Linked DNA regions of Homo sapiens. The protein of the gene in region 2 purifies or fractionates together with the protein of the main gene of each other region. This does not show direct contact. Each region holds a gene or a part of one and is shown on either strand. Other genes may lie near its edges.

Region 1 (7,366 bases), on a different chromosome or scaffold from region 2:
ATAAACATATGTGTGCATGCGTCTTTACAGCAGCATGATTTATAATCCTTTGGGTATATACCCAGTAATGGGATTGCTGGGTCAAATGGTATTTCTAATTCTAGATCTTTTTTTTTTGAAACTGAGTTTCACTCTGTCACCCAGGCTGGAGTACAGTGGCACGATCTTGGCTCACTGCAACCTCCGCCTCCTGGGTTCAAACCACTCTCCTCAGTCTCCTGAGTAGCTGGGATTACAGGCGCCTGCCATCGTGCCCGGCTAATTTTTTGTATTTTTAGTAGAGACAGGGTTTCACCATGTTGGCCAGGGTGGTCTTGAACTCCTGACCTCAGATGATCCACCCGTCTTGGCTTCCCAAAGTGCTGGGATTACAGGCATGAGCCACCACGCCCGGCCAAAAGACTGACTTTTCTTAACAAGACATCAAACATGGAAAGTGACAACTTGGTTAGGAGAGAAACTTCTCCAAAGAAGATACACAAATGGGTAGTAAGCACATGAAAAGATGCTCGGCCTCATCAGTCATCAGGCAGACACAAATCAAAACCACAAAGACATTCCACTTCACACCCAGTAGGCTGGCTAGAATCCAAAAGACAGACAGGAAAACAAGTACTGGAGGGGTCATAGAGAAATTGGAATCCTCATACATTGCTGCTGGGAACGTAAAATGGCGCAGCCATGTTGGAGACCAGTCTGATGATTCCTCAAGTTAAACATAATTACCACATGACCCAGTCAATTCTTAGGTATACACCCAAGAGACCGGAACTTATGTCCACACAAAAACTTAGAATGTTCATGGCAGCATCATTCCTAATAGGTGGAAACAACCCAAAGGTCCGTCACCTGAGGAATGGCTAAATAAAGCAGGGTCCATCCATGCAATGGATTATACAGCCATGGAAAGGAATGCGATACCGATTCATGCTACAACACGGATGGACCCGGAAAACATTCCGCTATGGGAGTGAAGCCAGACACAGCATGTCATGCTGCACGATTCCATTTCTATACAATGTCCAGAACAGGCAAATCCTTAGAGACAAAAGCACATTCTTGGTTGCCAGAGGATGGGAGCAGGAGGGAAATGGGAGTGAGCTACAGGGCTTCTTTTTGGGGTGATGAAAACATTCTGGAATTGGATAGTGGTGATGGGTGCACAACCTTGTCAATACTAAAAACCAACACATTGTGTACTTCAAAATGCTGAATTCTATGTTATGTGAAATTTTGTTACGTGAATTATACTTCAACTAAAAAACCTAAAATGTCAGCCGGGCGCGGTGGCTCACGCCTGTAATCCCAGCACTTTGGGAGGCTGAGGCGGTCGGATCATGAGATCAGGAGATCGAGACCATCCTGCCTAACATGGTGAAACCCCATCTCTACTAAAAATACAAAAAATTAGCCGGGCATGGTGGCAGGTGCCTGTAGTCCCAGCTACTCGGGAAGCTGAGGCAGGAGAATGGCATGAACCCGGGAGATGGAGCTTGCAGTGAGCCGAGATCATACCACTGCACTCCAGCCTGGGCGACGGAGTAAGACTCCGTCTCAAAAAAAAAAAACAAAAACACCTAAAATGTCTTAAAAATAGGATTAAAATACTGACACATGCTACAAAATAGATGACCCTTAAAAGTATGCTAATACTATGCTAAGTGACAAAATCCAGGATGGAGCAGGAGTGAACAGTGAGAGCCGAGGAGGATGGGGTTTCTTCCTGTAGCAATGAAAACATCCTAACATCAACTCCGGTAATGGCTGTACAACTCTGAGTATACTCCAAACCACTGACTCTTTAAATGGGTGAATGGTATAGTACGCAAATTATATCTTAATACATCTATTTTTTTTTTTTTTTGAGATGGAGTTTCGCTCTTGTTGCCCAGGCTGGAGTGCAGTGGCGCGATCTTGGCTCACTGCAGCCGCAGCCTCCTGGGTTCAAGTGATTCTCCTGCCTCAGCCTCCCAAGTAGCTGGGATTACAGGCATGTACCATCATGCCTGGCTAATTGTGTATTTTTAGTAGAGATGGGGTTTCTCCATGTTGGTCAGGCTGGTCTCAAACTCCCAACCTCAGGTGATCCACCCGCCTTGGCCTCCAAAAGCGCTGGGATTACAGGCATGAGCAACCGCGCCCAGCCTTGCGTTCTTGTCTTTTTTTTTTTTGGAGACAGAATCTTGTTCTGTTGCCCAGGCTAGAGTGCAGGGGCATGATCTCAGCTCACTGCAACCTCCACCCCTGGGGTTCAAGCGATTCTCCTGCCTCAGCCTCCAGAGTAGCTGAAACTACAGGCTTGCCCCACCATGCCTGGCTAATTTTTGTATTTTTAGTAGAGACAGGGTTTCGCCACATTGGCCAGGCTGGTCTCAAACTCCTGACCTCAGGTGATCTGCCCGCCTCGGCCTACCAAAGTCTGGGATCATATGTGTGAGCCACTGCACCTGACCTTAATACATCAATTTTTAAAAAGAGAGGACAGAGAGAGAAAAACAGGTCAGGTGATATGAAACAAAAATCAACTTACATGATAAATTCATTGGGTTGGCAGACAGTGGTAGCCACTCCTCCCAGGACAATCCAGGGGTTTAGTACTGTTTGGCCGCCTGTTACAGATGTTCCTGCTTCCTCAGCTGCGTCTTTAAAACCTTGGATAATCAGAGGCATCACTTTATCCCTTTCCTAAGGTTGAAAAAGGTACAAATAAAAAGTCAAAGAATTCTGTTCAAAACCCAGAAAAGAAGGTTTTTACACTTACAGTTATAAAAAGAACCATAAAATCCTAAAGGAAGTCCTCAAAGTTTACAGACAGGGAAGGTTGTTAGGGGCCAGGCATAATCGCTCACGCCTGTAATCCCAGCACTTTGGGAGTCCGAGGTGGGCAGAGAGCTTGAGCCCAGGAGTTTAAGACCAGTCTGGGCAATGCAGACAGACCCCTTTCTCTACGAAACATGTAAAAATTGCTGGGTGACCGGGCACAGTGGCTCATGCCTGTATTCCCAGCACTTTGGGAGGCTGAGGCGGGCAGATCACCTGAGGTCAGGAGTTTGAGACCAGCCTGGCCAACATGGTGAAACCCCGTCTCTACTAAAAATACAAAAATTAGCCGGGTGTGGTAGCATGCGCCTGTAATCCCAGCTACTTGGGAGGCTGAGGCAGGAGAATCGCTTGAACCTGGGAGGCAGAGGTTGTAGTTAGCCAAGATCGCATCACTGCACTCCAGCCCTGGGCACAAGAGTGAGACTTCATCTCAAAAACAAAAAAAAAAAATATTGCTTGGTGTGGTGGCATGTGCCTGTGGTCCCAGCTATTCCGGAGGCTGAAGTGGGAGGATGTCTTGAGCCCGGGAGGCTGAGGCTGCTGCAGTGAGCTCTCATCACACCACTGCACTCCAACCTGGGCAACACAGGGAGATCTTGTCTCAAAAACAAACAAAAACAAAAGCTAGAAAATATTTCACATTGTCATCATTTTATCCAATGCTGGAAGATGTTCTAGACAACAATGTAAATAAAGCCCAGACACCAACATTGTCTGGACTCAGTGCACAGGACCAGCCCTAGGTCTGATGACTGCTGGAAGCCAGCTGTCCAGTGCTCCTTGAGAATCTCAAGACTGGCTTCCTAAGCACAGGTCCCCTGCCCTGCAGTAGGCATCCATCCTACCAAGGCTTGGCTGCAGGCTACGAGTAACCCACACTGACAGAGCCTGCGCCAAGACCACCATGCACCACTGATGACTACAGCCCATGTTCAAGGGCAGGAAAGAGCCTACTGGAAACTCAAGTTTCTCTAAGGCAGGGCAAACTGTTGGGGGCTCTTGGGACAAAAACAAGTACCTGTCTATCTAAATAGGAATTCATCTCTGGTTCAAAGAACAGGTTCAGGCAGCAAGGGCACAGAATGCTAGGCGATGACACAGAGGCGTGAGCCCCTGGTGGCCCTATCCCCCGTCACCATCTACGTCCACGACATCCCCAGCCACAGCAGAGGGAGTGCCCTCTAAGTGCCACGTGTCCCACATCTGTAAGGCTGTGCCTGATTCACACTGAGGCACCATTACTATGGCCAAAACTTTATTTTAAAAAATGCACAGGTCGGGCACGGTGGCTCATGCCTATAATCCCAGCACTTTGGGAGGCCGAAGTGGGTGGATCACGAGCTCAGGAGTTCGAGACCAGCCTGACCAACATGGTGAAACCCCATCTCTACTGAAAATATAAAAATTAGCTGGGGGTGCTGGTGTGCCCCTGTAATCCCAGCTACTTGGGAGGCTGAGGCAGGAGAATCGCTTGAACCTGGGAGGTGGAGGTTGCAGTGAGCTGAGCTTGTGCCACTACACTCTAGCCTGGGTGACAGAGTGAGACTCTGTCTCAATAAAACAAAAAAAAATATACACAAATGCCTTGGGCCGGGCACGGTGTTTCACGCCTGCAATCCCAGCACTTTGGGATGCCGAGATAGGTGGATTACCTGAGGTCAGGAGTTCAGGAACAGCCTGGCCAACGTGATAAAACCCCGTCTCTAATAAAAATACACAAAATAGCCAGGTGTGGTGGTACGTGCCTGTAATCCCAGCTACTTGGGAGGCTGAGGCAGGAGAATTGTTTGAACCCGGGAGGCGGAGGTTGCAGTGGACTGAGATTGCGCCACTACACTCCAGCCTGGGCGACAGAGTGAGACTCCTGTCTCAAAAAAAAAAAAAAAAAAAGTCTTGGTTTCAGTCTACTGGGAAGAGAGAAAGGGAGCAGGTGGCAGAAGTGCAGAGATGACTAGGCCAGGCTTCCTCATTTTAATTTACTGGTAACTGCCAAAAAGTGGAGAGCCAGAAGGAGTGCAGGGAGCCATATGGCCTGGGCTCCTCGCTTTCTAGATGGGAAACCAAGTCTAACCAAGGCCAGAGATGCCACCGGGACAACACGGACCAGGCAGCAGCCGGGTAGCTCCTACTTACCCTGTCGGTCATTTTATTACTGACTCCAAGGAGCATCAGCATATTGTCACATTCCGTGACCCCCATTGCATAGAGGTCACTGAGGACATTGGCACACGCTATCCTGCCCTGGGAAGAGAGGGAAACATGAGAAAGGACGACCGGGGACTTTCCATCTGCAGAAACTGAGTGAGCCATGGAGTGGACTCCACAGAGAACGTGGAGACTTTCCAGGAGTAGCAGCTACTAGGATGGGGTCCTCAGTTTCTATGATTTGCAGACTGGCAACCTTTCCTGCATCACAGAGTCACTAGGCCATTCGTTTTTTCTCAGACATTCCTGTTACCACCTCTTTCTTGTGCAGGACAAAGAATGTACCAGTTTTTCTCCATTCTAAATTTTAGAAGTCTGCAATTTATTTAGATAGGGGAAGGGGTATATGTGCAGCGAATGAGGAGGAGAAGCAAGTTTAGAACCGACAGTCTTGGGGGAAGAGCTATGGAGCGAAAAAGCCTGCAAACAACTCTCCTAAAGAAAAGTTGGAAACAGCCACATATCCCAAACAGATTCTAAAAATGGCTGGCTTTAGTGGTTATAGAGATGGAGATAGTCTTTGTGCACTTGGATTAAGAAATGTTTGCAGCTTAGGCTGGGTGTGATAGCTCACGCCTGTAATCCCAGCAATTTGAGAGGCCGAATCAGGTGGATCACTTGAGGCCAGGAGTTAAAGACCAGCCTGGCCAACATGGTAAAATGCTGTTTCTACTAAAAATATAAAAATTAGCTGGGCATGGTGGTGCACACCTGTAGTCTCAGCTACTTGGGAGCCTGAGGCATGAGAATTGCTTGAACCTGGGAGGTGGAGGTTGCAGTAAGCTGAGATCGTGCCACTGCACTCTAGCCTGGGCAACAGAGCAAGACTGTCAATAAACAACAACAAAAAAAAAACAAAAAAAATTTTTGTAGCTTCTTTTCAAGGATGTATGAGATAAACAGAAAAATCATCTTAAGAAACAAATAAAAAAATACCCAGGGCTGAAGTCATATTGTTTTCAAAAGAAAAAGAAGCATTTCCCAGTAAATGATGTCATTTTATTAGGAACTTTAAAATACAATTCAACAGAAATGTGGTAATGAAGATTTTTTTATTGCCACTGGAGATTTTTAAAAGTTAAGTTGCCCTTATCTAAATTTTTATCTTTTATAGACAATAAAGAGAAAATACAAATTTTCCTTCTGACATAAGGATAATCAAACTCCCAAGTGTTATCACTTCCAGTGGCTGTTTAATTGCTTGCTTTAGGCTTTCTTATACATTCCTGGAGGTCAGCAATGCAGCTCAACAACCATCTGTGGCCACACTTTCAGTATCATCAAGCCAGTCCACAAGGCCAACAGGTGGTCTACAACTCGCACAAGCCAATCGCTAGTTAGGGGGGTGGTGATTTAGCGCCCCTTCTGTTCTGGGTGCTCTCATTTTAGGAGATGCTGGAAAACAATGGACTGTGGTTTTAGCCATCCCTGCCACCTGGTCATGTGGGACCTGGGCTGTGGCTTACCTGCCCAGTCTCAAGAGTATTGCTCCAGAGGAGAAAACGGACAGATGTGCGGAAGAAATATAGGTTTCCAATAATCTGGTATTTGTCACTGGTACCTGAGGGTGAACACCCCCCACGTGGCTGCCTCATGATAAAGTCCCTACAGTGCAGCCTGATCCCACTGTCCTTGCCACACACGAAGAACACCTGGCATTTTATAGCAAACCAGATTTTCCTAGTCTCTCCACTGGCTCCTCCTGGGTGGTAGCAAATTGGGGTTAAAGGTTGGGTGGATCAAAGGGTGGCTGGCTGCAACTACGCAGTAAACAACTGGGGAACACACCTCAGCAGTGTATCATCAGTAGCCAGGAACTTTAACTCAGTGGTCAGAAACCTACTATGTACAGCGGCACATCACACGGTGGTGGGTGTGCAAGTGGCTGGGTTGAGTGAATTAACCAGATATCCGAATTAATGTTTGAGGCATCTAATTGTGATGAGATACTAGCTCCTTAATCTCTTGAAGGAAACATTTAGGATCAGTCCTATTACAGAGGACAGTAACATCTCCAGCCTAAAACACAGGGGTGATGGAGGTTACCAATGTCAAAGAAGAGAAGGTGCAAGAAAGAAGAAAATGACAAAAACAGGCCATTGACATGCTACTAAACAAGAGGTGTTCTTACTCACAGCATGTACTCAGTTGCAACAGCAGCAGAGGGCCTTCCCTGCTTCCTCCCTAATTGCTTTATGCCCAGTGCCAAGTGTGGGCAGGGGACAGGCCTGACTTCAGCAACTGCAGGAGTCTGGGCAGGGTGGGGCAGTATAGTCGGGATATAACAGAAATAAAACCAAAACCCCACAGATACATACAAAACCCCAGCCACAACCCA
Region 2 (7,366 bases):
TGCCTCGGCCTCCCAAAATGCTGGGGGTACAGGCATGAGCCACTGTGCCCGTCCCTGGGTTTCTAAAATGTGCATCCTAAGATATAAACTGTGGTTTTCTTTCTGCAGGTTTCATTTTCCTTTGGAATTTCTGCTTTACAGACAGAACAATGGCAGCCCGAGTACTTATAATTGGCAGTGGAGGAAGGGAACATACGCTGGCCTGGAAACTTGCACAGTCTCATCATGTCAAACAAGTGTTGGTTGCCCCAGGAAACGCAGGCACTGCCTGCTCTGAAAAGATTTCAAATACCGGTAATCATGTTTTAAAGTGGGGAGTAATAGTTATTATTTGTTATTAATGGTATGCTGTCAACCATATCTGTACTTTATGTTAATAAAGATAGGCTGGGCACAGTGGCTAATGCCTGTAATCCCAGCACTTTGGGAGGCCGAGATATGCGGATCATGAGGTCAGGAGATGGAGACCATCCTGGCTAACATGGTGAAACCCCGTCTTTACTAAAAATACAAAAAATTAGCCGGGCGTGGTGGCGGGTGCCTGTAGTCCCAGCTACTCGGGAGGCTGAGGCAGGAGAATGGCTTGAACCCAGGGGGTGGAGCTTGTAGTAAGCTGACATCATGCCACTGCACTCCAGCCTGGGCGACAGAATGAGACTCCATCTCAAAATAAAATAAAATATAGACTACTATTCAGGGTTGAGTGCTTTCCTTGACCTTAAAATTTATTTGGTAATTTGAATGCTTGCCAATATGTTATAAACTTAAGGTAACCTATTGTTCAGAATATGGCATTTCCTTATCTTAAACTGTTTTAAACCTGATAAAACACATCCATTGGAAAAGTAGTAAGTGCCTAATACAGATTAAAGGCATTTTGTTGTGTATTTTTGTAAATGGAAAGTTTAGTATTGCTATTAAATACAACTTGCGGCCACGTGCAGTGGCTCACGCTTACAATCCCAGCACTTTGGGAAGCCAAGGCAGAAGGATCTCTTGAGCCCAGCAGTTTGAGACTAGCCAGGGCAATGTAGTGAGACCCGATCTCTACAAAAAAAAAATACAAAAATTAGCCAGGCATGGTGGTGCACATCTGTAGTGCCAGCTACTTGGGCAACAGAGTAAGATGAGAACCTGTCTCACAAAACAAAGTTTTTAACAGTTGTTACTCTAATAGATCTCAACCCTTATCTCTCTCTGACTTTTTTTTTTTTTTTTTTTTTGAGACAGAGTCTCACTCTCACCCATACTGGAGTGCAGTAGCGTGATCTCAGCTCACTGCAACCTCTGGCTCCTGAGTTAAAGCGATTCTTCTGCCTCAGCCTCCCGAGTAGCTGGTACTACAGGTGCATGCCGCCACACCCAGCTAATTTTTTGTTTTTTTAGTAGAGACCGGGTTTCACTATGTTGGTCAGGCTGGTCTCAAACTCCTGACCTCAGGTGATCTGCCCGCCTCAGCCTCCCAAAGTGCTGGGATTACAGGCATGAGCCACCGTGCCCAGCCTCCACCCTTATCTCTCAATTGGCAAAAATGAAAAAATGGTCAGTTCATATACTACATTAAGCTTGTCAGTGGCTTCAGAAACTCCTCAGTATTCTAATAATACTCAGAATAAAACTCAAATTCCTTACCATGCCTTTCAAAGCCCTTTGTGCAGTCTGTCTTCTGCCTGCTCTTCCAGCCTGATCTTTTATATCCCTTTTTCTCTTTTCACTATACCCTATCCATGCTGTCCTACCAATTTCCCAAGCAGAAGCTTGCTGCTTTGGACTTTATATTTGTTCCCACCCCTTACTATGACTGTCTCCTCATTATTCAGAGCTCCACTTAAATGTTAGCCTCCTTAATTATATCTCTCCTACAGTTTCTTACTAAAAGCAAGTGTCCATCCCCATTTCATTTGTTTATGATCATGAATGTCTGTGTTTATTTTTACTTCACTATTGTCTGTCTTCTATGTTCTTTTCCTCCACTAGAATATAATCTCTAGTAGAATGTAAGCTCCATGAGGGCAAGGAACTTGTCTGTCTTGTTTTGCATGGTGTGCACAGTGCTTAGTTCCCTATGTGGCACATAATATTTATGGAAAGAAGAGCATGGACCCAACAAGCCACAAACTGGGAGAAGATAGTGGCATGTATATAAGACCAAAAGGAATAATACAAATTAGCAAATACCTCCTTTTCTGGGATCTTAATTCTACGGGTGAGATATTTGTTTATTAGAGAACTAGGACAGTTTATCTGCGATTGAGGTCATACAGGCAAGCCCATCAAAATCTCTTAAGATCATCATGAGACTACTACAAGTAGTCTTGTAAGACTACTAAAGAGACCTCTTCCTCTTGTTGCCCTCTGCTATACTGATATAGTTGACGCTGCTCAGCCTAGTTGTGTTCAGAACCACTAACCCACAGTGCGTGGTACTCCATCCTAATCACATTCAGGCAGTTGCTGCAGATTGAGGACCCTACCTTTTCTGGACTTGGACCCTATACAGTAGTCACCAGCCTATCCACAATTTTACTTTCCACAGTTTCAGTTACCCACAGTCAGCTGTAGTCCAAAATATTAAATGGAAAATTTCAGAAATAATTCATAAATTTTACATTGCACACCAGTCTAGCATAGCATGATGAAATTTTGTGCCGTCCAACCTGAGACGTGAATCTTTTTGTCCAGCATATCCATGTTGTTACTTACTAGCCCTGTTGGTTATCAGATTGACTATCATATTATCTCAGTGCATGTGTTCAGGTAACCCTGTTTTACTTAATAATGGCCCCAAAGCTGATGCTGGCATATAGTTATAATTGTTCTATTTTAGTATTAGTGATAGTTAATCTCTTACTGTGCCTAATTTGTAAATTAAACTTTATCATAGGTGTTTATGTATAGGAAAAAACATACTATATATATAGCGTTCAGCACTGTGGTTTCAGGCATCCACTAGGGATCTTAGAATGTGTCCTCTAAGGATAAAGAGGGACAACTGTACATCACAAATATCACTTCTTGTACTCTGTACCAATGGCAGAGTGATTGCACACTTCAGCTGACTTAACGAATGGTGGTCCAGGCACAGTGAAGCAGGAGAGCCCCTATGGAGCCAAACCATGTTCAGTATGTGGTTGATCCTACCACTAGTTACTTAGAACTCCACAGAAGAAAATTTACCTGACTTGCAGGTTGGAGAAGACAGGTTCCTCTTAAAAGCGTCATTGAGTTCTTAACTTAAACAGCTCTGCCCCAAAGAGATCCCTCCTGACCCAACCCAAAATAGCCTCTCAATTCACTTCATATCAAATTTGCTTAATTTGTTCATATTTGCTGTTTTTTTGTTTGTATGTTTATTACCCAGCGTTCCTACAGCGTATTGTAAACATGTTAAGTATAGGGACCCTGCTTGTGTTGATAAATTTTTTTTTTTTTGAGACAGAGTTTCGTTCTTGTTATCTACCCAGGCTGGAGTGCAGTGGTGCGATCTTGGCTCACTGCAACCTCCGCCTCCCCAGTTCAAGCGATTCTCCTGTCTCAGCCTCCTGAGTAGTTGGGATTACAGGTGCATGCCCCCACACCCAGCTACTTTTTGTATTTTTAGTAGAGACGGGGTTTCATCATATTGTTCAGGCTGGTCTCGAACTCCTGACCTTAGGTGATCCACCCACCTCGGCCTCCCAAAGTGCTGGGATTACAGGCGTGAGCCACCGCGCCCCGCCGTGTTGACATCTTAATACCAGTGCTGAGGACAGTACTTAGCACATAGTGGATTTTCAGTACAATTGATTGATTGACATTAAAAGACCAATTTCTGAGTATATCTTACGTTTTTTGTTTAATATACAGTCAATATTAGTGACGTGAACAATATCATGGAGGTGATACTTTATGGCTCTTTGGGAAGTTTATTGGTGTTTTCATCTGTCTACAATGATAACGGAGAACTGAGCTCTGTTGGTTAGCCTAATGCACTCTCCTCTGAATTTCACATGTTGAAACTGTCATCTCTGCCAATATAAGAAAACCAACAGATAACAAGCATACTAAAGTATAGAACTTAGTTTTTTTAGTGAGACACTTAGTTTACTTAAGTGGAATGTTTTTGTAAATGCAGTGGTTTTTTTTTTTTTTTTTCTGTTTACAGCCATCTCAATCAGTGACCACACTGCCCTTGCTCAATTCTGCAAAGAGAAGAAAATTGAATTTGTAGTTGTTGGACCAGAAGCACCTCTGGCTGCTGGTAAAGTTTGTTTCTGTTTATTGTTACAGTATATTCAGTGCAAACAGAAGCTTAGGGATCATCTAATCCAATTCATTTTACAGATGAGAATTTGTAATATTATCTTGGAAAAAGAGCTTCCACTCTCGAAATTTATGGAGTCTAGATTTTTTTTCCCAAGCATCAGTTATATGATGAGTTAGAGATCAAATTTGCAGCCATGGAAAACATTTTATATGTCTTTATTCTGCTGTATTCTGGTGTGTGTTTAATAATCCATATATGCAAATATAACAACTTTTGATAGATTTGAATAACATGTTAATAGCATTTTATCTCTATCCAGTAGACAACATGAAAAAGTTAGTTATCCTCTGCCACCAGTCATCTGCCTTGTCTAGATGTAGATATAGTCTGATACTAATTCGTCTTCAGGCTGAAAAGCCCCTGGGGAGACCTTGGTTCACCTAAGGCTACTGTTTTCATCAATAGGGATTGTTGGGAACCTGAGGTCTGCAGGAGTGCAATGCTTTGGCCCAACAGCAGAAGCGGCTCAGTTAGAGTCCAGCAAAAGGTTTGCCAAAGAGTTTATGGACAGACATGGAATCCCAACCGCACAATGGAAGGCTTTCACCAAACCTGAAGAAGCCTGCAGCTTCATTTTGAGGTAGGTAAATGGTTGTCTGTGAAGGACAGTTGTTTAGTTTTGATATTTAAATACACAGGTCAGTGGCCAGGCACAGTAGCTCACCTGTAATCCCAGCACTTTGGGAGGCCAAGGCAGGTGAATCACTTGAGCTCAGGAGTTAGAGACCAGCCTGGGTACCATGGTAAAACCCTGTCTCTACAAAAAATACAGAAAAAAAAAAGCCGGGCATGATGGTGTGCACCTGTAGTCCCAGCTCCTCTAAAGGCCAAGGTGGGAGGATCACTTGAACCCAGGAGGCGGAGGCTGCACTGAGCCAAGATTGTGCCACTGCACTGCAGCCTGGGTGACAGAGTGAGACCCTGTCTCAAAAAAATTAAATAAATATACAGGTCACTTCTGTGTTGAAAATGTAATGCTAGGTCTTTAGGCTGTCTCAAGATGTAGTAAGATAATTAAGGAAAAAACTTTCTCAATAAATATTATGTGGGTTGTCGTTTTCCAGAACCAAAATAAAATGGGATCCTATGCATACAGAGTTTATATGATCTTGTGGCCTTGCAGGAAGATGACATTTTTAATAAAATCTGAGTAGTTCCTCAGGGGAAAAATACACTTGGTTCTGCAGTTGTGCGCTCTTCACAGCCATGTTTTTGGTTTTTGGTTCCCCGCCCCCCACCACCACCCCCCAACCTGAGACGGGGCCTCTCTCTGTCACCCAGGCTGGAGTGCAGTGGCGTGATCTTGGCTCACAGCAGCCTCTGCTTCCTGGACTCAAGTGATCCTCCCACCTCAGCCTCCCAAGTAGCTGGGACAATAGGCACACACCACTACTCCCAGCTAGTTTTTATATTTTTTGTAGAGACGGAGTTTTACCATGTTTCCCAGGCCGGTCTCAAACTCTTAAGCTCAAGAGATCCGCCTCTCTCTGCCTCCCAAAGTGCTGGGATTACAGGCATGAGCCGTAACACTAGGCCTCACGGTCAGATTGACAAACGCAGTGGCATCTTACAACATAAAGAACATTGATTTTTTTTGTCATAAATAATTAACCAGAGTGAGTAATCATCACTTGGTCATCTGCCACCACTATTGCCATTTTATTTTATTTATTTATTTATTTATTTTTATTTTTATTTATTTATTTATTTTTTTTTTTTTGAGTCTCGTTCTTTCACCCAGGCCGGACTGCAGTGGCGCTATCTCTATCTCGGCTCACTGCAAGCTCCGCCTCCCAGGTTCATGCCATTCTGCTGCTTCAGCCTCCCGAGTAGCTGGGAATACAGGCGCCCACCACCACTCCAGGCTAATTTTTTGTATTTTTAGAAGAGACGGGGTTTCACTGTGTTAGCCAGGATGGTCTCGATCTCCTGACCTCGTGATCCGCCCGCCTCGGCCTCCCAAAGTGCTGGGATTACAGGCGTGAGCCACCGCGCCTGGCCACTATTGCAATTTTAAATTTCAAAATTAAACATCCTTTGTTCTCTATTATGTGGAAAGCATTGAGCAATTAATGAGTGTTAGTAGACACATGCATTTGCCCTTTTTTTGTTGGCACTTCTGCTTCCTGGTTATGTTTTCCTTTCAGTTGTGTCAGTTTCATTTTTTTTTCATTCATATCCTAAAGAGTTTCTTAAACACTGAATATTATTATTTCCTAGCAGCCAGATGCCTTGAGCAAGTAACAGTTTTGTTACTTACTTTGGGTAAGTCTCCTTCCAGACCCCCAGGCCCACTTGATAATTTCATATGTGTACTCCCAGAAATGGTCTGTGTATGCTTACTGTTGTTATACAGCCGCATTTTCTACCTGAATGAGAGTACTATTTGCTACTTTGTATCTTAGAGATTATGCCATATCTACTCTATACATCTACTTATTCTTCCAAAGATATTGCCTATGTAATCTCATGATAAATGAAAAAAGCAAAATTGTAGGTACTGTATGATTGGAACTACAAAGGAATACGTAGGGGAAAAAATCCTGGTGGGAAGTACATCAAAATGTGTTGGAATGATAATTAATTTTTTTCTTTCTGCTTTTCAGTCATTGCTATAGCATATCGTTACAAAATCCCACAGCATTTTAAAATCTTGAGTTGTAATGGTTTATTGGATGTTGACGATTACTCTGTCTTTACAGTGCAGACTTCCCTGCTTTGGTTGTGAAGGCCAGTGGTCTTGCAGCTGGAAAAGGGGTGATTGTTGCAAAGAGCAAAGAAGAGGCCTGCAAAGCTGTACAAGAGATCATGCAGGTAGGCTGGGTCTTCTGAAAAAATTTACTTTTCTATTCATACTGAATAAATACCGTTTTAAGTTTAAAAAATGTTCCTCACAATAAGGAAAATCTATTTTGCAAACATATGGGTAAGTTATTTTTTATAATCCCATGTATTATAATCCATCTCTATAAAATAGTTATGGATTTACACTGTAAATTAAACCATGATTGTATTATTTTGAAGTAAATTGTAACATCCTTTGTTGTCTGCCACTGAAAG
Region 3 (7,366 bases), on a different chromosome or scaffold from region 2:
GGAATAGCTCATAGGCCTCTTCTATTGCTGTATAGGCTGGCCAAAGTGAAGAATGACACCATCTGAACAGGTGTCTTTCTTGACTGGGTGGTCCCTCAACTGGTGCAGGGAGAACCAGTTAATATAAACTAGGGGTTTAGGGACACGTCTTCAAACAAGAGTTGAAGGAAAGTTTAATTAATATAGTGTCCCCCAAATTTTAAGGCCCTTTGATACATTTTTTAACATAATCTCTTAAGCAATTCATTCTTTGATAAATTTATAAATTATCCTCCTGTTTCCTAAAGCAGAGATTTGTTAACCTAGAATCCAAAATTGTATGTATTTGCAATTTTCTGAAAAGAGTTCTAGAATTCATTAGCTATCAAAGGAGTCTGAGTTCCCCCAACCTCCCACTCCCCCAAAATTAGTAACTACACTTCCATAGCAACAACCTGTACACGAAATAATCAACATTTTTTTCCAGTTGAGAAACATTTGGTTGTAAACCCAGGGCTCCATTATTTTAGATCACTGCTATACCATTATTTTTTATGTACTATATTCTGAAACTGTTCTTTAATTTCCTATCTGACTGCCTCCCAGGAAAGGGTGGCAACTAAAGATTCCCGGGAGAACCGGCTATTTTAACCTCCCGCCTCCTGTAACTGTGGGGGCCTATTTTCTATTGGAGTATATTAGAAGCAATGCTCCAGGGGCTTCTTACCAGGTAAGGATGCCAGAGGTTCTCATCATTCTAGTCTTTGTTTTCTTTTCATACTTGCATTTTTAATTATTTCTCCCTGCTCCTTTCTTTTCTAAGCTTCTAGAATACCTTAAGCTCTTTGGAGGTGAGTATTAAGAAAGCCTAGCGGCCAGGCGTGGTGGCTCATGCCTGTAATCCCAGCACTTTGGGAGGCCAAGGCAGGCGGATCATGAGATCAGGTCAAGACCATCCTGGCTAACACAGTGAAACCCCGTCTCTATTAAAAATACAAAAAATTAGCCGGGCATGGTGGTGGGCGCCTGTAGTCCCAGCTACTTGGGAGGCTGAGGCAGGAGAATGGTGTGAACCCGGGAGGTGGAGCTTGCAGTGAGCTGAGATGGCGCCACTGTACTCCAGCCTGGGCGACAGAGTGAGACTCCATCTCAAAAAAAAAGAAAGCCTAGTATATCATGTGTTTTTCCCTTAGAAAACTGACAAAGCTCTTTTTTCAGCATTATTAGTCTAAAGTGTGTAATTACTTTTAGCAAAATCAGAAATACCTGAAATGTCCATATTACTTGTGGTTTACCTTCATACTCAGCTTTAATCCTCAGAGTTTCATCTGGTCCTTTATGCGCAGATGTTACTCGAAGTTCACATGGAATGCCAAAATTTCCACAGGCCTTCTTGATTTTTTCACAGTGACCAAGATCAGAAGTAGAGCCCATCAACACTACAACCCTGCACTGACTTTCTGATTTCAAAAGCAACTGAAGAAAAAATACGTGGATATGAAAAGAACATAAAAACAAAAATGAATAAATGAGCTAGAGTTTGTAGTAAAATTATATCTGGGCCCAATATTTTCTTTCTTAACAGATCAAATTTAAGACAGAGACAAACAACAAAAAGACAGGATTTATTTTTAAAAATCTCAATATATAAAGGAAAGTGGTCTTCATCAAGACCTAAAGAATTCAATTTTTATCAGACAAATTATTTAAAATAAACAGTAAAGATACTCAAAATCTTTTAATTTTCAGGAAATTATAATACAAAATATTTCATCCTAAGACCTTTAGTGCACTTTGTTTAATGGAAGCTTTAAGGTATGATTAGCCAAATCAGAAGTCATGTTCTAAGTCTTTGTAAGTTAATTGCTTGTAACTCAAAATATATATTCCTATAAGAATAATGTTCTCAAATGTGATTATGACCCTTGCATAATCACAAACCCCATTCAACTCCCAGAATTATAGTAATACCATAAAACTTAAAGGAATATTTAAAGTCACACAGAGTTCCATCCATCCCATGCTAATGGAACTCTGACTAGCAGTGCAGGTGAGTAGGAAATATAAGGTTTCTCCTACGGGGTAGGGAGGAGACAGATTCCAGGTTTCCCCAACAGGATCTGGGAGGTATGTATTGGCCAGCTTAACAGCACGGAGTTCCAGTATCCTAGTAAGGATAGCCCAGCTGATACATTTCCTAAAAGTGTTCCTCACTTTCAAAGTCACTGAAGAGCTGGGCGTGGTGGCTCACGCCTGTAATCCCGGCACTTTGGGAGGCCGAGGCAGGGGGATCACGAGGTCAGGAGATCAAGACCATCCTGGCTAACACGGTGAAACCCCGTCTCTACTAAAAATACAAAAAATTAGCTGGGCGTGGTGGCCAGCGCCTGTAGTCCCAGCTACTCGGGAGGCTGAGCTAGGAGAATGGCGTGAACCCGGGAGGCGGAGCTTGCAGTGAGCTGAGATGGCGCCACTGCACTCCAGCCTGGGCGACAGAGCAAGACTCCGTCTCAAAAAAAACAACAACAAAAAACAAAGTCACTGAAAAGAAAAGCACTATACTCTCCCATTTTTTTTTCTTTTGAAACAAGATTTTCTTAGAAGAAAAACACATAATACATACAGTTTTACTATAGAAGGTTTACCTCTACTCTCTCTGCAACCCACTCAAAGTTTTTCTTTACCATTTGGAGCCCTTCAGGAGTTACTTCTTTGAGGTCCCGATAAGACTAGAAAATAAGATAGAAAGTTTAGAAAACAAGTATCTCTTGCTACCTGAAACTATTTGGTTTCTGAGTTTTGGGGAGGGATTATGAAGAGTTTGTATAGCAAGGGATACTTCTGAAAATGCATCTTTTCACTTCCTGAATTAAACTAACAAAGTTCCATAGTAAAGTATACTTTTATTTTCACTTAAGGTTAAGTGTTTTCTGTACTAGCAACTACAATTAACTGCCTTGAGAATTTTTATATATTAAGTATAGAAAGGGTCTTGCTCTAATTTTGTTTTCTGTTATTTTTTATTTTAAATACATGTGCAGAATGTGCAGGTTTGTTACATAGGTATACATGTGCCATGGTAGTTTGCTGCACCCATCAACCTGTCATCTAGGTTTTAAGCCCCATATGCATTAGGTATTTCTCCTAATGCTCTCCCTCCCCTTGCTCCCCACCCTGCAACAGGCCCCGGTGTGTGTTGTTCCCCTCCCTGTGTCCATGTGTTTTCAGTGTTCAACTCCCACTTATGAGTGAGAACATGTGGTGTTTGGTTTTCCGTTCCTGTGTTAGTTTGCTGAGGATGATGGCTTCTAGCTGAATCCATTTCCCTGCAAAGGACATGATCTCATTCTTTTTCTTTCTTTTTTTTTTTTTGGAGACAGAGTCTCGCTCTGTCAACCAGGTTGGAGTGCAGTGGCACAATCTCGGCTCACTGCAACCTCCACCTCCCGGGTTCAAACAATTCTCTGCCTCAGCCTTCCGAGAAGCTGGGATTACAGGTGCCCACCACCATGCCTGGCTAATTTTTTTTTTTTTTTTTTTTTGAGACAAGGTTTCACTATCTTGGCCTGGTCTTGAACTCCTGACCTTGTCATCCACCTGCCTTGGCCTCCCAAAGTGCTGGGATTATAGGTGTGAGCCACCGCGCCTGGCCAATCTCATTCTTTTTTATGGCTGCATAGTATTCCATGGTGTGTGTATATCACATTTTCTTTATCCAGTCTAACACTGATGGGCATTTGGGTTGGTTCCATGTCTTTGCTATTGTAAATAGTGCTGCTCCTGTGCACGTGTCTTTACAGTAGAATGATTTATATTCCTTTGGGTATATACCCAGTAATGGGATTGCTGGGTCAAATGGTATTTCTGGTTCTAGATCCTTGAGGAATCACCACACTGTCTTCCACAATGGCTGAACTAATTTGCATTCCCACCAACAGTGTAAAAGCGTTCCTATTTCTTCATAGCCTCTCCAGCATCTGTTGTTTCCTGACTTTTTTAAAACAGCCATTCTGACTGGTGTGAGATGGTATCTCATTGTGGTTTAGGTTTGCATTTCTCTAATGATCAGTGATGATGAGCTTTTTTTCATGTTTGTTGGCTGCATAAATGTCTTCTTTTGAGAAGTGTCTGTTGTTTTATATAGGAGCAGAAATGTGGCCTGGTAACATGCAGGAGACTTGGAATAGAGTCCCAGATCTGTCCCTGACTCTAGTAATTGTGAAGATACCCATCCTCTTAAGACCCTTAGTTTTCATTTAGCCAAACAAAGATAATACTTGCTGTTACTGTTGTGACAATGTTATTAAGATAACAGATGAGAAATTTGCTTTATAAATGTAAAGTATTATTCCTATTATTCTTCTATTAGGATACCAGAGACATTTATCTTTAAAAATAAACAGCAATCCACAAAACAGGTTCATATCATTAGGAACAATAATTTGCTTTTTCCCCTCATCTCTCCTTTCTCCTCTATCTCAGCTTGATCTCAAAAAGGATAAAAAAACCTGAAGCATTATCTACCTGTTTGTCTTTCTGTTGGCTTCGATCTCCTGATGGCCAGAGTCTCCAGGAATCATTGTCAATAACATCAGCAAGAACAATTTCTTTGGTGGTTACATCAACACCAAATTCAATCTGGAAACAGCATGTCAACAAAGTTTTCAAAAACTATTTTATGAAAGCATCTCTCAACTATAACCTTTACTTTCAAATCCTGTTGTTTTATCTGTACTTGTTTTATCTGTACCTTCATATCAACCAGTGTACAATTCTGGGGCAACCAGGATTTCTCCAGTATTTCAAATATAGCCTGTGTAGCATGACTCATGATATCCACTTCAGTCTGGCCTATAAGAAGTCCAGCAAAGCAAAATTTTGCAGCAATCAGCTGTTCCTCAGACCACTGTGGGTCATTATTGGCATCATCCTGTGAATAAAGTATAGTAGTACAATTAACTTCAATCTAAAATTTTTAAACTTTTCAGAAAAACCAACATCCTTTTCACCTTGAGCATGAACTCCTTAGAAATTTTTAGCCACAGCCGGGCATGGTGGCTCATGCCTGTAATCCCAGCACTTTAGGGGGCTGAGGTGGGCGGATCACAAGATCAGGAGTTCGAGACCAGCCTGGCCAACACAGTGAAACCCTGTCTACTAAAATTACAAAAAATTAGCTGGGTGTGGTGGTGTGCACCTGTAATCCCAGCTACTTGGGAGGCTGAGGCAGGAGAATCATTTAAACCCGGGAGGTGGAGGTTGCAGTGAGCTGAGAGAGCGCCACTGCACTCTAGCCTAAGCAACAGAGGGAGACTCCATCTCAAAAAAAAAAAAAAAAAAGAAAAGAAATTTTGATCCAGGTGCAGTGGCTCACACTGTAGTCCCAGTAATTTAGGAGGCTGAAGCAGGAGGATCGCTTGAGCCTAGGAGTTCAAGAGCAGCCTGGGCAACAAAATGAGACATCTAAAGAAATTTTTTGTTTACGATACTCCTTAATTCAAAGCAATTATTACTCCTCTTTTTTTTCCTAGTTAGCTCCTGCAAGCAGAAAAAACTATTACTCTTAATTTGTTTACTCTCAATAGCACTTTAAAATTCAAAGTATTTAGGTGAGTAACTTATTCTAGGTCACAAAGTATTTCAAAGAATTTAACCTCTATAAACCAATTTAAACAGAATTTAAGTTTGTGATTTTTGTTTTTCCTTAATAACAGTCATCAGACATGACAGGAAGGCCAAAGCACATTTTAATCAATCAAATCTTTCCAAAACCACCGTTCTCATAACCTCCCAACCTCACTTTTTATTAGAATTTATACAGCACTATAATTTTTTAGGGACATTATTTGATAATTCAAGAGACCTCAGACAAAGAGGTAAGTGAAAAAAATGAAATAATTTCATTTTATTCTCAGCAGTGTCCCAACTTTACATGACAATATCTTTATAAATTCTTGATCTATATAATCATAATACACACAAGTTACATAACTCATTGATTAAAAAGCAAGACTGATATTGCTTCCCAAGCAGATCTATGCTTAACAGCATAAATCAAGATGGTTAAAAGCAGTAAAGCCTACAAAATTCATAACCACTGATTCTTACAACCTTTATTTATATATTTTCACTTACAAGAGACATTGTTAGTATAGTTTTCCTGTATTAGAATATAAAAAGATTTCAACTAAATTTTAAAAAAATTAACTAAATGTTACTTTTCTCTTCTTCCTGTTAGTCATCTTGGTTCAAAGGTAAGATTTTCAGATGCTTTCTTTTTAAAATTTGATTTATCATTGTTAATGGAAGTGTACATTATTGACATTGGCAACTAGATAAGACAAATTTTGGAATGACATTTGCAATATCAAAATATCAAAAACTTTGCTTGAATATTTAAACCTTTAGAGTTTCTAATTATAAATTTATTGCCGTGTTACAGTAAGACATAAAACAGAGGCATAAGATAATTACCTTGAAAAACAACTCCACTTTAGGTGGGTAAAACTTATATCCTTCCTTGACACCAGGATTTCTTTTGAGAAAAGAACCAGTTGCTATTCTTCTGCAAACCCATTCAATTGGAATCATTTCACACTGCGGTGCAATGAAAGCTGTCTCCCCACATTTTCTGGTGAAGGCAGTTTTAATACCTACATATTGATAACCAAAGTTAAAAAAGGTATTGAAATGATATGTAAAAAGGTAGATCTGAGGCACAATAAAACTCTACCCTTTACAAGCAACAAAGAACCTCTATCAAAAATAAGTGTAATTTTTCTCTTTATTTAATGTAGATGCGGTCAGTTGTTGACTCAAACAGTAAGCAGCACATGACTATACATACAATGTATTGTTCAGCCATAAAAAGGAACGAAATTCCTGATACATCCATGCTATATAATATGGATGAAGCTTAAAAACACTAGGCTAAATGAAAAACACAAAATGCAAAAGAACAAATACTTACGATTTGACTTATATGAGGTAACTAGAATAGGCAAATTCAGACAGAAAAGAGAATGGAAGTTACCAAGGGCTGAGGAGTGGGAGGAATAGTTATTGTTTAATGCTACACAGTTTGTTTGGGATGATGAAAAAGTTCTGGAAATGGATAATGGGATGAATGTACAACATTGTGAATGCACATAATGCCACTGAATTGGACACTTAAAAATGGTCAAACTGGTAAATTTTATGTATTTATCACAATTTTCTTTTAAAAAATATCAGGAGCCTATTTTATGGCAGATATTGTTCCAACCATTTTAAATACATCTTTTTTGTTTAATCCTCATAACATTTGATAAGATACTATTAAGATCAACAAAACAGGTAAGGACACTAAGACACAGTAGTAATGTCAGCTAGTATTAGGTATAGCAGG
Region 4 (7,366 bases), on a different chromosome or scaffold from region 2:
CAAAAAAAAAAAAGAAAAAGAAAAAGATACTTTTCTTTTCCTTTAGGCTATTAATAATAATACTTTATACTGCCAATGAGTCAATATCCCTTATGCATTCCTCTTATATTTACTACTCCCCAAATGTCGCCTTACTCTATGATTGTTGTGCTCCATTTATTTTATTCAGTCAAACTTACTAGTTGCCTGTTGATCTAGAAATGCCCTCCACCCTTCAGAATTCACGGGATCTTGGCCAGTCAGAGTAGAAATTCTTTCCTCCTTCCCACAGTCCGAGACCTCTTGTCCCCAATGGCATGTCACAGGGCCTGTTTCATGTTGCACTCTCCCTGACCTTCATGACAAAATAAAGTAAAAGGAGCCCAGGAGCCTAACTTCTATTCCATCTTACCAAAAGCATATCATTTAGATTCTTCTTTAAGAAAAAAATTTCTTTTTTTTTGGAGACAGTCTCATTCTATTGCCCAGGCCAGAGTGCAGTGGTGAGATCTCGGCTCACTGCAATCTTCACCTCCCAGGTTCAAGCGATTCTTGTGCCTCAGCCTCCCTGGTAGCTGGGACTACAGGCACGCACCACCATGCCCAGCTAAATTTTTGTATTTTAGTAGAGATGGGGTTTCACTATGTTGCCCAGGCTGGTCTCAAACTCTTGAGCTCAGGCAATCCACCTCCTCAGCCTCCCAAAGTGCTAAGATTACACACATGATGAGCCACCACAATTGGCCAGAAAAAACTGCCTTTTTTTTTTTTTTTTTTTTTTTTGAGACAGAATTTCGCTCTTGTTGCCCAGGCTGGAGTGCAATGGCGTGATCTCAGCTCACCGCAACCTCCGCCTCCCAGGTTCAACTGATTCTCCTGTCTCAGCCTCCCAAGTAGCTGGGATTACAGGCATGTGCCCGGTAAGAAGTTTCTTTTTTAAAAAAAAATCTAGGCTGGGCAAGGTGGCTCATGTCTATAATCCCAGCACTTTGGGAGGCCAAGGAGGGTGGATCACCTGAGGTCAGAAGTTCAAGACCAGCCTAGGCAACATGGTGAAACCCCATCTCTACAAAAATACAAAAATTAGCCGGGCATGATGGAGGGTGCCTGTAATCCCACCTATTCGGGAGGCTGAGGCGGGAGAATTATTTGAACCCAGGAGGCGGAGGTTGCAGTGAGCCGAGACTGTGCCATTGCACTCCAGCCTGGGCAAGAGTGAGACTCCGTCTCAAAAAAGAAAAAAAAAAAAATCTACTATTCTACAAGTGAAATGTCAATATAAGTTTCACATAGATAAGTGGAAGTCACAGGTATAGATATATATATATAGATATAGATTTTTTTTTTTGAGACGGAGTCTCGCTCTGTCACCCAGGTTGGAGTGCAGTGGCGCCATCTCGGCTCATTGCAAGCTCCGCCTCCTAGGTTCACGCCATTCTCCTGCCTCAGCCTCCCAAGTAGCTGTGACTACAGGCGCCTGCCACCACGCCCAGCTAATTTTTTTGTATTTTTAGTAGAGACGGGGTTTCACCGTGTTAGCCAGGATGGTCTCAATCTCCTGACCTCATGATCCGCCCGCCTCGGCCTCCCAAAGTGCTGGGATTACAGGCGTGAGCCACCGCGCCGGGTCAGACATATATTTTTTGAGACAGACTCTCACTCTTGTTGCCCAGGCTGGAGTGCAGTGGTGTGATCTCAGTTCACAGCAACCTCTGCCTCCCAGGTTCAAGTGATTCTCCTGCCTCAGCCTCCTGAGTAGCTGAGATTACAGGGCCCCACTACCATGCCTGGCTAATCTTTGTTTATTTTAGTAGAGATGAGGTCTTGCCATGTTGGCCAGGCTGGTCTTCAAACTTCTGACCTCAAGTGATCCGCCAATCTCTGCCTTCCAAAGTGTTGGGATTAAAGGCGTGAGCCATCACGCCGGGCCATAGATATATGACTTGGAATAATTCTATAAATATGGCAAGGTATTTATGCTCGGTGCTTCATCCAGAAAAAAATAGAAGGTGAGCGCTATCCAACTGCTACCTTTTAGCAAAGCTATCTGCTACTCAGCTTTCTTTACCCAATTTCCTACAGAATAGATAGTTTTCACTTTAAAGCACAAATGGAACAACCCTCCACACATCTCCGCTAATAAAGAGAAGGCAGAAGATGAAGAAAATTCCTTAACATACCAGTTCAAATTGTCCTCTGGGTGGACATTCAAGGAGAAGCCTCAACACGGGCAGAGTCAGAAGGGACCCAAAATGCACCAGAGGAGTCACAGACTGTCTACACAAAGCAGCAGCACTCCCTACTGTTCAGGCAGGGACGGACACCAGCCAGCAAGCTGTGCCTGGCTATGCAGCTGGCTATGCCTTATTCAGTAAGGAAGAAAAAGCAAGCAACCAATTCAATCCCTACAGAAATCCCATCACTGCAGGCAGAAACATATTCACTTGGAAATACTTGTCTCAACGGTGAGTTGGAAATTTATTTTAGGTCCTTAAATGAGAGGTGTCACAATCTATTACATCTACCTAACCTTCACTTATCCCTGGGGAGAGGAGACCCAACAATGAAGCTACTTCTGGGAAACATGCTTCTCTGAAACCATTCTGAGGATACAAGTCACTGGCTTTTCAGCATTAGCCAGAGGCTTGTTTTCATAACATATCCCCAAACCCACCATTTTCCATCCCTCGGTTCCCTATTCTGTGACATCTCCCACTATAGGGACACCAGCACCCATCAAAAATTTAAAACTGAGGAACTACAATTAAGGAAAAGGCTGCTTTGCCCTGGCGCAGTGGCTCACGCCTGTAATCCCAGCACTTGGGAGGCCGAGGCGGGCAGATCCTGAGGTGATGAGATCAAGACCATCCTGGCCAACATGGTGAAACCCGTCTCTACTAAAAATATAAAAAATTAGCTGGGCATGGTGGCATGCAACTGTAGTCCCAGCTACTCAGGAGGCTGAGGCAGGAGGATAGCTTGAACCCAGGAAGCGGAGATTGCAGTGAGCCGAGATCGTGCCATTGCACACTCCAGCCTGGAGACACAGCAAGACTCCATCACAAAGAAAGAAAGAAAGAAAGAGACAGACAGAAAGAGAGAAAGAAAGAGGCTACTTCCTAGGCCGGGTGCAGTGGCTCACGCCTATAATCCCAGCACTTTGGGAGGCCAAGGCGGGTGGATCACCTGAGGTCGGGAGTTCGAGACCAGACTGACCAACATGGAGAAACCCTGTCTCTACAAAAAAAAAAAAAAATACAAAATTAGCCGGGCGTGGTGGCGCATGCCTGTAATTCCAGCTACTCAGGAAGCTGACTCAGGAGAATTGCTTGAACCCGGGAGGCGGAGGCTGCAGTGAGCCAAGATTGCGCCATTGCACTCCAGCCTGGGCAACAAGAATGAAACTCTGTCTCAAAAATATATATATATAAAGGCTGCTTCCTGAGTTTTTTTGGGTGGAGTGGGGTGGGGTGGAGATGGGAACTAGAGTGGGGAGGAGCCTGGATTGTCAACGGTATTTCACTTCTCAAAGTTGTCTTGGTTCCTTAGTTCAACAGGTGGTTAACTGTCTCAGGGCAAACTGTCCAAGGAAGAACTCTCAGGACAGAAACTCCAAAAACAAGAGAGGGTCCTGCTTGCCCCTCACACTCTCTCCAAAAGTAATATTAGAATCAAGAGAGATGGTTAACACTGCTTATCTGACAATCTGGCCTCCCCACACAAATTGTAAGTCACATGCCAATAGAATTTCACGTCTCAGAATAAGACCTGAGAGTCATATATTCCTCCTATTACCATTCTCAAAAGCCTCAACCACTCATATTCTTACCCATGGTGAGGGTAAAACATAGGAATTGCCATTTTGATCCGAATGGGAGAAGGAAAAACAGTGTCACTCCAATAAAATGAATAGCCTGTTAGGATAACTGCACTTTGAATTTTGTTCTTACTTCAAAAGTTTAAAAGAATACCTGGAAAGACCTCTGAGTAACTTCCACATCACTCAGTGCTGGAGAAAGGGGACCAAAGACTAGTGCAGTAAGGGAGAAATGGGCTCTCAGAGGGACTCTGCATCAGGCCACAAAGCAACTAGGCAACTGCTGACTATTGTTCTCCAAACTTCTAAAGTCCCGAAGAACAAAAAAGCAAGTGCCCAGTACTCAGCTTTTCAAAACCATTAAAATACAAACTTCAATGACTAAACTAATCCCTGATTGGCTGGAATGTACAATAAGGCTGGGCTTTCGGCCAATCAGAGTTCTGTTTGTTGGGAGTGGACTGGACTCTAAGCAACTGCCACTCACTTGGCCCTATATTTTCTCAAAATTCTTGTTTCTCTGGCACTAGTTAACATGTGGATCTGAACTAAAGCACTAAGAGAGAACCTTTCTCTGTACTCTACCTTTGCTCCAGTTATGATTATCTACTTTGCCATCTGTTAGTATCAGGGTTCAATTAATTTGCCGGTATTGAGAATTCTGTATTCCTAGGTTTATCCCTTCCTTAACTTATTTCTCCTCCCATCTCCCATTTCTTCACATCTGACTACACTTAGTGCACAGCAAAAGGAAAATAGTGTTTCTCACTGATTTGGGTTCCAGGTCAAAGATAAATTCCCACTCAGTTTGGAGGCTTACTGAAATGTCTAGGTGCTTGCTCTGAAACTTCAAGAGGAAGATTAGAAGGACACATTCCTAAGAATTTAAAACCAGGTAAGGAAGAAAGCTGGGGAGGCATGCCCACAAGCTCTTCAGTTAAGTGAGGCCACAAACTCAAAAACACCATGCAAAGCTGCAGCAAACGAACAGCAACTACAGGAAACCCGGGACATGAATTGAGAGTTCAGTTGTTCCCATTAACAATCTGAATAGAGAAATAAAAGGCAAAATCCTAATCGCAAAGAGTGTACAATACCTAGGTAGTAAGGGCCTAATAAGAATTGCTCTTATTTGTGCCCATCAGGAAAACATACAGAGAAGTTAAGTTTATCAGCTCAAGGAATCAGGTAAGGATGTCCTGACTCTTAAGTCTATGGATCCCTTGATTCTTTTAGATCTTGTTGTCCAGTCACACTAGGTATATGCTGAGACACGTAAGTGTTTTCTCTTTGAAAAACAATTTGAGGTTGGGTGTAGTGGCCCACGCCTGTAATCCCAGCACTTTGGGAGGACAAGGCGGGCGGATCATGAGGTTAAGAGATCGAGACCATCCTGGCCAACATGGTAAAACTCCGTCTCTATTAAAAATACAAAAATTAGCTGGGTGTGGTGGCACACGCCTATAGTCCCAGCTACTCGGGAGGCTGAGGCAGGAGAATCATTTGAACCCAGGAGGCGGAGTTTGCAGTGAGCTGAGATCACACCACTGCACTCCAGCCTGGTGACAGAGCGAGACTCCGTCAAAAAGAAAAGAAAACAATTTGAAATCCCTCAAGTTTACCATAAGAAAGACTCCCTATAGAGATCAAGCTGTTTCCCAGCCCAGGAGATATAACAAGAGATCCTTAATTCAAGACAGGTATTCCCATATTAGGTAAAGCAGTCAGCAACTTCCCAGGAAAATATAAAGCCTTAAGTTAGTTGAAATGTGAAACATCTGAAGTTTAACCCTCTGGCTCATAAATAGCTTTGCCTGTTTTGGTGAGCAAAGAGAAATAATCTTCATGCATAGAATCCTGATCTGTTTTGGAGTGCCAACTAATATATCTTTTATTTTAGCCCCAACCCTTTTTTTTGAGACAGGGTTTCACTCTGTCACCCAGGATGCAGTGCAGTGGTGTGATCGCAGCTCACTGCAGCCTCGACCTCCCCCAGCTCAGGTGATACTTACACCTCAGCGTCCCAAGTAGCAGGGCCTACAGGTATGCACCATCACACCCTGCTAATTTTTGTATTTTTTTTTTACAGAGATGGGGGGCGGGTTTCACCACGTTGCCCAGGTTGGTCTCGAACTCCTGGCCTCAAGCAATCCACTGGCCTCAGCCTCCCAAGGTGCTGGAATTACAGGCGTGAGCCACCGCACCCAGCCTTAAATGTTTTTATAGAGACTAAGTCTCACTATGTTGCCCAGGCTGGTCTCAAACTACTGGGCTTAAGCGATCCTCTCATTTTGGCCTCACAAAGTGCTAAGATTACAGGCATGAGCCACTAAGCCTAGCCTTATTTTAGTTTCTTGGCTGCTGTAAGGGAAACAGAACTTTGTCAGAGTGACATGCAAAAAAATTGAAATCCATCTCTTTTCTCTACAGAAACACTAAAGCTAAGGAAATAAAACATGTAGCCATTTAAAATGCTGCAATCGTGAAGTCCGTCTTAAAAGCTCCTCTCATTTTGCCCCCCTATGGGACTGTGACAACTTAGCAGCAGCAGGACATGTCTTAAGCCAAGACGTAAGGAAGGAAGGACTCCTTACAAAGCTGGACCTCACAAAAACGACCCGAGAGACTCATTAACTCTTGATCCCTAAATGAACTGGTAGGAGGACCATAACAACAGAGGCAGGAACTTGGCCAAAGAACTCTAACCAAGCCAGACAGTAAAAGGGCATTTGTAAGGGATGCCCCTATCACTGCCCTCTGCTATGGCCACACAAGAGGAATCCAGGACACATGAAAAACATAAAACCACCTCCCTCCAAAGCTTCTAAATCTCCATCCCATTTTCAGCACTGGAAAAATCATACATAAACAAGGCTTTTTCATACTAACAGAGCCTAATGTTTATTCTTTTTTTTGAGACAGAGTTTCACTCTTGTCGCCCAGGTTGGAGTGCAATGGCACGATCTCGGCTCACCGCAACCTCCGCCTACCGGATTCAAGTGATTCTCCTGCCTCAGCCTCCAAGTCGGTGGGGCTACAGGCATGCACCGCCATGCCTGGCTAATTTTTTTTTTCTATTTTTAGTAGAGATGGGGTTTCTCCATGTTGGTCAGGCTGGTCTCAAACTCCCGACCTCAGGTGATCAGCCTGCTTTAGCCTCCCAAAGTGCTGGGATTATAGGCATAAGCCACCGCGCCCGGCCAATGTTTATTCTTCTAAGGATGTCTGATATGGCAAAAAGTTAAACTGATTTTTTTGTTTATTTCACTTATTTTCCTTTTTTTTTTTTGAAATGGAGTCTCACCATGTCGCCCAGGCTGGAGTGCAATGGTGTGACCTTGGCTCACTGCAACCTCCGCCTCCCGGGTTCAAGCGACTCTCCTGCCTCAGACTCCCGAGTAGCTGGGATTACAGGTGCCCACCACTACGCCCAGCTATTTTTTCTATTTTTAGTAGAGATGGGGTTTCACCATGTTGGCCAGGCTGGTCTCAAACTCCTGACCTCGTGATCCGCCCACCTCAGCCTCCCAAAATGATGGGATTACAAGTGTGAGCCACTGCACCCAGCCA

Evidence for each region.
Region 1: the proteins of GART (region 2) and SEPHS1 fractionate together in Homo sapiens (co-fractionation; 2 studies listed by BioGRID). This does not show direct contact.
Region 3: the proteins of GART (region 2) and PAICS fractionate together in Homo sapiens (co-fractionation; 2 studies listed by BioGRID). This does not show direct contact.
Region 4: the proteins of GART (region 2) and DNAJC7 purify together in Homo sapiens (affinity purification with mass spectrometry; 2 studies listed by BioGRID and IntAct, with this or other methods). This does not show direct contact.

Annotation. Positions count from the first base shown.
Region 1 is NC_000010.11:13,331,287-13,338,652, forward strand, and holds part of SEPHS1 (selenide, water dikinase 1), read right to left. Parts: intron 5,065-7,366; coding exon 4,957-5,064; intron 2,686-4,956; coding exon 2,531-2,685; intron 1-2,530. UniProt on the Homo sapiens protein: Synthesizes selenophosphate from selenide and ATP.
Region 2 is NC_000021.9:33,532,099-33,539,464, reverse strand, and holds part of GART (trifunctional purine biosynthetic protein adenosine-3), read left to right. Parts: intron 1-108; 5' UTR 109-149; coding exon 150-294; intron 295-4,144; coding exon 4,145-4,240; intron 4,241-4,711; coding exon 4,712-4,886; intron 4,887-7,008; coding exon 7,009-7,120; intron 7,121-7,366. UniProt on the Homo sapiens protein: Trifunctional enzyme that catalyzes three distinct reactions as part of the 'de novo' inosine monophosphate biosynthetic pathway.
Region 3 is NC_000004.12:56,445,961-56,453,326, reverse strand, and holds part of PAICS (bifunctional phosphoribosylaminoimidazole carboxylase/phosphoribosylaminoimidazole succinocarboxamide synthetase), read right to left. Parts: intron 6,971-7,366; coding exon of another isoform or gene 6,950-6,970; intron 6,633-6,949; coding exon 6,454-6,632; intron 4,910-6,453; coding exon 4,730-4,909; intron 4,618-4,729; coding exon 4,504-4,617; intron 2,709-4,503; coding exon 2,625-2,708; intron 1,456-2,624; coding exon 1,275-1,455; intron 1-1,274. UniProt on the Homo sapiens protein: Bifunctional phosphoribosylaminoimidazole carboxylase and phosphoribosylaminoimidazole succinocarboxamide synthetase catalyzing two reactions of the de novo purine biosynthetic pathway.
Region 4 is NC_000017.11:42,007,101-42,014,466, forward strand, and holds part of DNAJC7 (dnaJ homolog subfamily C member 7), read right to left. Parts: intron 1-7,366. UniProt on the Homo sapiens protein: Acts as a co-chaperone regulating the molecular chaperones HSP70 and HSP90 in folding of steroid receptors, such as the glucocorticoid receptor and the progesterone receptor.